2 separate regions of the Homo sapiens genome follow, and region 1 is linked to region 2. The links come from fine-mapping of genetic effects on gene expression. A gene starts in region 2. The other region holds a variant in brackets. All regions are shown on one strand. Distances are from middle to middle.

Region 1 (4,399 bases), 51 kb after region 2:
ATCCAGGGGACCAACTCCATCTTGTGGGTTGCTTGGGAAACACATTTAGAGGCCTCTTTTTCCTGCATCTAAGGTAAGAGGAGGTGTACCGGGAAGCAGCAATCACCCTCCCCTGTCTCTTTCAGCTTCAGGCAACAAATGAAGCTCTTGGGTTTTTAGGCCTTCAGAGTAGAAAGCTCATCTGAACCCTCCTGAAATAAAATGCCTTGAATATTTGAGGACAGTAAAATTCTTAATCCAGTTTGTCTTTGTTTGTTGGTGTTCGGTTTTTGTTTCTGTTTTGTTTTGTTTTGTTTTTTTGAGACAGGACCTCGATCTGTCACCCAGGCTGGAGTGAAGTGGCGCGATCTCAGCTCACTGCAACTTCCATCTCCTAGGCTCAAGCGATCCTTCCACCTTAGCCTCCCACGTAACTGGGACTACAGGCTCATGCCACAGGGCCAGGCTAATTTTTTTTTTTTTTTTTTTTTGTAGAGATGGGGCTTTGTCATGTTGTCTAGGCTGGTCTCAAACTCCTGGGCTCAAGTGATCCGCCTGCTTCAGCCTCTCAAAATGCTGGGATTACAAGTGTGAGCCACCGCACCTGGCCGTTTTTAGTTTTTAAATTTTATTTATTTATTTATTTGAGACAGTCTTGCTTTGTGGCCCAGGCTGGAGCCCAGTGGGGTGAGTGATCATGGTTCACTGCAGCCTTAACCTCCTGAGCTCAAGAGATCCTCTTACCTCATCCTGTCGAGTAGCTGGGACCAGAGGCGTGCACCACCATACTTGGCTAATTTTTTATATATATACTTTTTGTAGAGATGGCGTCTCACCACGTTGCCCAGGCTGGACTTGAACTCCTGGCCTCAAGCTATCCTCCCACCTCAGCCTCCCTAAGTGCTGTGATTACAAGCATGTGCCACCGTGCCCAGCCTGGTTTTAGTTTTTTTAAAACTTTACAGTTCAGACTGTACAGACTAGCACATCTTTACAGAGGCATGTGTGCGTATGTCTCTTAGAACGATGATACCACATGCTAGCTCAGGTAGAGTAGCTAACATGCCATGATAATGCACCTCACTGTACAAAGATATCTCATTTGGCAAAATAAAGATGCTCCCAAAAAGCTTCACGTGACTTAGAATTATGCAAATTGAGTTATATTTTAAGTACCTGAGATCACAATATTTAAATGATTTGTATGGTAAGTCTTCTTTTAATCTAATAACTTCTCCCTAATTTGTCTGTTTTGAAAATTTAAATTCTCATGGATTGTTAACACATTTAATCAGAGTCTAAAACAGCAGAGTTCTAAATAAGCTGAAACTTTTTCACAGTTCTATACATTAGTAATTTATATTTAAAGTGACCACTTTGACAGTGCAGAATCTCCAGATGACACATTATGATCCTTCTGGTTTTATTGCTAAGCATATTTTACTGTGTGTTAATTCTCCAGGTGGTTGCTAGTCCACCTGAATTAGACTCCCCCCACCCCCCACGGATTCTTTCCCCTCAGGTGGATTCAACATTTATTACTTTTTCAATCAAAGGTTAGTTTATGAAAAGAAAATTCAGATTGCCAGGGCCCATGCAGACCAACTGAATCAGAATCTCTTGGGCTAGGGAGTAGAGATCTGCATTTTTTGCAGGTTCACAAGGTCATTCTTATTCACATCAGAGTGGGGAAACCACTGGTTTGGAGTTTCTATAGTAACTCCCTAATAACCAAGCTATTCAGTTAATGAAAGTACCCCATTCCCAGACAAATCTGGATTCTCAGGCGTTTACTGTTTCTGAGGTATGAGTCGTAATTGTATTTGTTACAACGTGATCTGACCTATAAACTCAAATGGATTTTTCTGCTATTCAATCTGCTGTCTTTTCCCCTTTATTTTATGTAATTAAAATGCATTTTAAAGAAGCAATCTCCAGGAACTATGAGAGCACATTTTTAAAGGTTAAATCATGGGGGCACAGTGTCCGTTAGGGATGGCTTTCCTATTAACACTTCCATATTAGCTCTTAGTGAACCACTCACACGCAAACACACGCCCCCACTGCTTCAACTTCTAGTGCTAGCTGAACATCAGGTACTTGAATAACAGCAATCAGGCACCCTCCTTCCTTTGTTAACGTATTCCAACCTAGCCACCCACAGTAAGATATTCCACAGAGAAGGTTCACAGCCACTGTTTATGAATAGGAGTTCATACTCTTAAATAACATGGAAAATACCTTCCCCTCACCCACAGAGACTCTAAATCTTGGCTTCAGCATTTGCTCATCAGTCAGAAATATTTTACTAATGCAGCTACCTGAAATACACAAAGTCAAGCAGACCCTATAAATTGCTTTTCCAAGCCACCGAAATGCTATCTTACCCCCTCTGTTCCTCCCTGCACACCCACCCCCCGACCCCCCACCGGCTTTGCTTGTGTTTAAAAATAAAACCCAATTCTGCTGACGACTGGTTTTCTTGCCTCACCACAGGAAGTGCACTGGGTGAGTTCTCACATCACAT[G/A]TTTAACACAGGGCACCAAACAGTGTCTGTGGGTCACCTGCCCTCAGCTGGGAGGAGCCCTGCCTGCCCTGGAGCTGTGGAGGCACTTCCCCCAGCAGCCTTCAGCTCCAGGAAGGCATAGCCTGCAGCCCACTTTAGGTCCCAGCTTCTCAAGAGCTATTGAGGAGGCTGACTGTGGAATGAAATCAGTGACCTAGGCAACAGGCTCCAGGCTTGGTCACTTATAGCTCTGGCTTGTCCAAGGCATCATCTTTAATCTCCCCTCTCGCTTTGCTTCTCTCTCCAATCCCCACCTCTCTCTCTCTCTCTCATTTCATTTCAAAGAGAAATGAAACAAAACAACAACAAAAAATACATCTGACCTCTTTGCTGTACTAAAATATTTCTTAACTGAATTGTCCTAAAGGTCCTTCTGCTCTCTAACAATTGAGGAGCCATTTAATTGGTGTTTAAAATATGATCTCACCTCTAGAGTTAGGTTTTTGGGTTCAACAGCAGTGTACGTAGACTCAAATTAGGTTTTGGTTTTTCTAATGCAACTAGTTTAGCAGTCTCCAAAGGGAACTGCATGCACCCTAGGGTAGATAAAACAATCCACTGGAATACGGCTGTTTCCTATTTATTGTTTATCTAAAATAATAAGAAACCAAACATTACTAATATTTAATAAACAGACTGTCACTGGCACCCTCTGTCCGTGTGAATGTCAGGTGATCAGGTGAACTATCCTTCTGGAGGAGGGCAAGTTCCAAGCAACAAACGGTTGATGGTGGGGCATTTTATGTGTGCCTGGATTGTATTATCCAATTTTAACGAAACTAGTCTCAACAAAATGGATAAGAGGCTTGAAAAGATTCCTCTTGAGAAACCAGAAGTTGAAGATGACCCTAATAATGTAAGCAAACGTAAGCAACAAGAAAATGGCAGAGTTTAATACTTCTAACTCCCAGGGTAGATTTTTGGCAGCCAAATTGTGATATTGACATTTAAAAACATGACTCCAATGACAGTCTAATCATATGGGATAAGAAGGCAGCCAAAAATATTCACAATTATCTAGTGGGCCATTTGAAATAAGGATTTAAAGCCACTGTCTTTAATGACAAGCTTCACACTAAGTGCATATTATCTGGTGACATTTTAGTTTGTGTTCACATGAAGATATTAAAAGTTATTGTATACTTATTTTTATCTAATTTTTGAATGTTCATTTTTATATAAGTTTTATGAACATGTATATATATAATTTATAAGTGAATAAATATACATATTTTAGGAACATATCTTCCACAGCTTTTTCTGATAGGAGTGCAGGATCACTTTGGAGATCAGTGCTGTTGGTCAGAGTGTCAAGCTGCCAGGATCCTCAGATTTCAGGTGAGATCAGATGACCTCTATTATATATGGGAATGCAGATGCCCGGAGAGAAAGGACCTTAGCCTAAGGTTAACACTGCTGGTAACATCTCCTAAACCAGAAACCTGAGGTATTAAAGAGTGAGATGACTTGCTCAGGATCACACTGTTAGATAGGGATGGTGCTGGATTCTTCTGATTCTCAGTCCAGTGCTCTTCTTAGCGGGCCCAGAGTTGCCTCTCCACATAAATATACAGAGATACAAAGGAGGAAATCTGAGCAAACACTAGACACTCAAACAGAATTGAAAACTATCAGAGCAGAGCCAGAATTTCTGTAGACAGCAAGCTACTGCGACCTACCTGTGCCTTCTATACTTACAATAACTCCGGGGTAATAACCTCCTACAGTCACATTCTGGGTCCTGGTGGTTGCAGCAAGGCCCACTGTGAGAATTAACACGGACACAATAAGCAAAGTCACGGTGACATAGATGGAGTTTCGTTTCCTCCGATTGAATGCTCCTGAAAGCACAGA
Region 2 (4,399 bases):
GTGGCATCTATTGCCACTGTGATCTGTATTTCAAAGATATGTCTCATTTTAGTTTTCATCAATTAAGCCACTGAAAGATAAATAGATCCTAAACTTTCAAGATATACTTTGTTCTAATTACTAAGATTTTTTTTTTTACTACTAAGTTTTGGGGAGGATAACTCAGAAAAATGGTTATTAAGTACTCAGTTGCCAGGAAAAATACTAATCTGCCTTAGTTTATTTTACAACAGCATACTTCTATTTGCCATGAAATATCTTTATAGTAAACAATGAAACTTTTCATAATGCTAAGTCCTAATCAAAAATCAATAATGCAATAATTCCCACATAGTTTGTTTTCCCACAATACAAAATCTTGGAGAAGAGCTTAAGGAATTGCATATTTCCATGTGAAATACAGCTATATTATACCACTTTGATGTTTTATTATACCATGTGGCTTTACTTTATTGAGGAGGATGAAGAATAGATTAGGGATAGGTAGATGAGATGATGACATCCATGTCTGATTTCCTGTCAGAGAAAATTAGATATAGTTACATCTGTTTTCAGTCTAATATCCTGATGGACATTTTCAGCAAGATTTTTTAGGAAAGAAGCACAGGAATTCCACTGCAAGGTATTAATAGGTACAAATTTAAGATTTTGGAAATGAATGCAGTATTATCCTATATATATCTTTTTAAAAAGATAATGAAGGTAGTGAATGGCCTTAATTATGGCAGAAAAAAAGTTACTATTTGGTTCCTTAGTTGAATACGATCAATAACCAGCCTAAAAGGGAAACATTTTGCTCTCCAAACACCCATCCTGTTGCTTCATTTATTATGGTACTCAGTTGGAAGGGTATTACCAGAGGATTTTAAAAAATTATGTAACTCACAATGTATTTTTTCGGTCATTAAACAATCACTGAACACATACTATGTGTCAGACACTAAAGCCCTCTGAAGATGAAATGTTATGGAAATAGTAATAATAAAAAATTAAAATAGTAACAATAAAAAATTAAAAATGCAAGTGTTAATATTATTAATCTTTCAAGATACAGGTCAAATGACAGCATTCAATTTGCTATTCTCTTCTCTCTGCTTCTACACCTTGTACAAATATTTTTGTCCATGTTTGTGTACCTACCTACTGAGCTCCCTAAAGAGGTAGAGACCTTTGGGTTATTCATTTTTGTATTCCCGAGAGCCTAACATAGGGTTTTTGCTACAGATCAAGCAGGGGGTCAGTAAATGCTAGTTGGAATGAGGGAATTAACATAGTACTGCACCATTTAGTATTCAATTAAGAAGATAGTTGTCCAAACACTAAATTTCTTTCTTAAAAGTAGTTACTGTAATGTAGTTGCTCTCTTGTTATCCCAGAACTTGAATTACCATAAGAAGTTGTGAATTTCTATTTGATTGTATGTATTTTGATTATATTTCAAGATGGTTTATCATCTAGCAAACAGTCTAATAGAGCAGATTCAAACTTGCAAAATAAATGAAACCTGTATAGTCTCTAAAAGTTTGTATGCCCTAGAAGTTCACATTGAATTTCGATGAAAACGACTCGCTTCCCTTCCATCCAATTGCTTGCGACTGTCTTACCCGATCTTTCCCTTTCCTTTTTTCCCACCCGTTAGCCCTCCGGAAAGAGCCGAACACACAAGAGCTTCCCAGTCTTCCTCCGCCCCCTTGCGGAAAGAACCGAAGGCAGAGCACGGCGCCGAAGTGGAGCCGCCTCAAGCTCGGGCCCTTCCGGACCACCCCGGCCTGCGCTCGGAAGAGGAGGGCGCCTTTGGCTTCAGCGCTTCGCCCCCGCGCTGTGCCCTCTGTCGGCGGCGTGGGGCAGCTGTAGCAGCGTTGGCGGCAGGAGGCGGCGGCCGCGTCGACGTCGACCCAGACTGGAGCGACGTTTAAAGAAGGGGCAGAATCGCTGGGGAGTGCGGCTTCTTCTTGTTGGGGGACTCCCAGCCTTCCGCGCGTCCGGAGGAGGAGAAGCGGCGGCGCCGGGAAGCAGGTGAGGACCCGGCCCCAATCAGGGAGGGGGCGAAGGAGCGCGCTTGCCTTCTCCGTCCCTGGGCCGCGCCTGCGTTTGCATTCGCCTCACTTGAACCAGGAAGCGGCAGAGTCGGAGGCTCAGCTCCTCCGGCTCTTTCTTTGTGTGGGCCGGGGAGCGAAGGAGGGGACGAGCCGCGAGGGCCGCGGCGCGGTCCCCTTCGCCGTTAGGGGCCGAGGGGCTGCCGGTGCCCTGGGTAGGCCCCGGGGCTTGGGGAATCCATCACAGAGACCCACTTGGCTTTTCCCTCGCCCCTCTCGCTGCTTTTTTGTGCCTCTTTTACTCCCCTAGCCCCTACTTTGATTTAGAGCTTTTCTGCCAGGCCCATCCTCCCCTTCCGTCCCCTTCCCGGGGCACAACAATGCCGCCTGCTTCGCTTCATCCCCCCCCCAACACCCCACCCTGCCGTTCGCCACCTTCTACTTTCCCTGGTACCCCATATTCCTCCCGCCCTCACTCTGCTGTTTGTACCTCCGTCTGTATTTGCAAGAAGCTTGCTTTGCACGTGAATTGGGGTTAAAAACCTCGGTTGCAGCTGGCAGGGTCCATATGGGGAAGAGGGAGGTGGAGGAAGGGAGATGAGGTTCAGCTGCCGCAGGGAGCCGCGTGTCGGTTTGTTTCACTCCCTCGCGGATGGCTTTTATCTCTTTCCACCGTCACCAGCTCCTCCGAACTGGCCCTCGGTCAAGGGTTTCACAGTGATGTGGAATGGCTTTTCCACAGTCGAATCGCATATCTTCGGAGTGGGTTCAGACCGACTTGTGCTGTCTCTGGGGCCACCCTGAGTGGGAGGAGGGGGACACATAAACGAAACGAAACCGAGTCCCAGTGTCACCTGGACACGTACATTTGACGCATTCCCATATTGGAAGAACCCGGGAGCAAATGACAAAAATTGCGTGCCGTTTTCAGAAAACCTGTCTTTCCACTTAATATCGACTTCTGTCGAAATGCCCGTATTTCGGAAGCCCTGGTTTTTGGCAAACTGTCCAAAGGTCACCCTTTCTGATGATGAATGCCTTTATGGTAACCTGGAATTCCTTGGTACTGTTAACATGCAACACCTTCTAATAATGTTTTAAATCTTGATTTTTAGACTTTTTGCCTGCTGTTTGTTCTTAAGGTATCATTTTGAAAAATTTAGAAGGTATTTGAGACAGAACTGCCCTCCACCTGTATATAACTTAAGCATTGTGACATCGACACCCTTTTGGTAACTTCAAAGGGAGAGAATATTAATAAAAATATTTCTTCACTAAAAGTACTTGTCAACTAATTGTTAATATATAATATCCATATATTAAAATATATCCATATATAATATGTATGGATATTATATATTTTTAATATATGGGTTTTTTTAAACTCTGGCCTCTTTGTTACTGGAAATATCTTCTGCAAAGTGCAAAAAATGATGTTTTGCTAGTGCTACACAACAATGCATTCTACTGACATCATCCCCTTTTTCTAGAGTAGTCTATTCCAATAAGTTAATGTTTTCATTTTCACTAACTCATTTGGTGTGGAAAAAATTCTCATACCAATGCATATGATTCTTTACCAACAAAAATAAAATGTTTCGTGTTTTCTTGGAAGTGGGCATTTAGAAATGGTAAACTTTCCTTTTCCTTTGTCATATTTTTTCATGATAGTGTCTGTTGACTTCACTTGGCACTGTTTAACATTCCACCTCTGGAAATTGTAAAGATGGAGAGATGAGGGGAAGGGACAAGGGGATGAAGAAAGAGGAAAGGGTAAGAAAGATGTTTAATAGTTTATCAAGATGAGGCACCCCAATTTAAATAACAGAAAAATAATGGGACGTTGGGAGGTAATAATTGTCAGTGTTTATAAATGTCATTGGCTCCAGGGTGTAGATTCTGCATATATTCTTAAAGATTAGTTAAAATTAAGAGTATGTATTTCAGACACAGTATTGCACGCGCTGAGCTTTTCTGACATTTCAATCATTTACAGGCGAAATAACTTCTGTGTGTTCATGATGATTTTCCTTAATTTTGACAGTTAAAAGTCAACTCTTACCTCTTCTTGGAGAGAAAACCCAAAATTGGGACTAAGAAAATTAATTCTAATCTTTAAAAATCACTTAGTGGAGGTGCATGTATCTAATATTCAAAAAAAGGTGACTATGGAGATTACTGTTCAAATCTCTGTAACAATGTAAAACTTGCTCAACTCAGGAGCAAGCCATGAAATTGGACACTTGTTCCAAAAGCCAACCTGTATGAACAATTTCTGTAAAAGCCAAAAAATTATGCTGAACTTTGGTTAAAACTTGAATAAACTATTTAATGATGCTACTGCTTAAATTCTAAATAAGTAC

The links.
Region 1: its variant is fine-mapped to the expression of ZBTB33 in whole blood (TOPMed, PIP above 0.99). The same link has a PIP of 0.9 or more in T cells and blood mononuclear cells.

Annotation. Positions count from the first base shown.
Region 1 is chrX:120,300,106-120,304,504 of GRCh38, forward strand. TMEM255A (transmembrane protein 255A) reads right to left here. Exons shown (of 9, transcript NM_001104544.3): 2 at 4,244-4,386. Among named protein-coding and RNA genes, the nearest start is that of TMEM255A, 9.2 kb to the right of the region's middle. The variant G/A (reference allele first, on the strand shown) is at 2,507.
Region 2 is chrX:120,248,962-120,253,360 of GRCh38, forward strand. It overlaps ZBTB33 (zinc finger and BTB domain containing 33), which reads left to right and starts at 1,851. Exons shown (of 3, transcript NM_001184742.2): 1 at 1,851-2,016; 2 at 3,708-3,809. It also overlaps a transcript of TMEM255A not described here. RefSeq lists an enhancer at 1,558-2,396.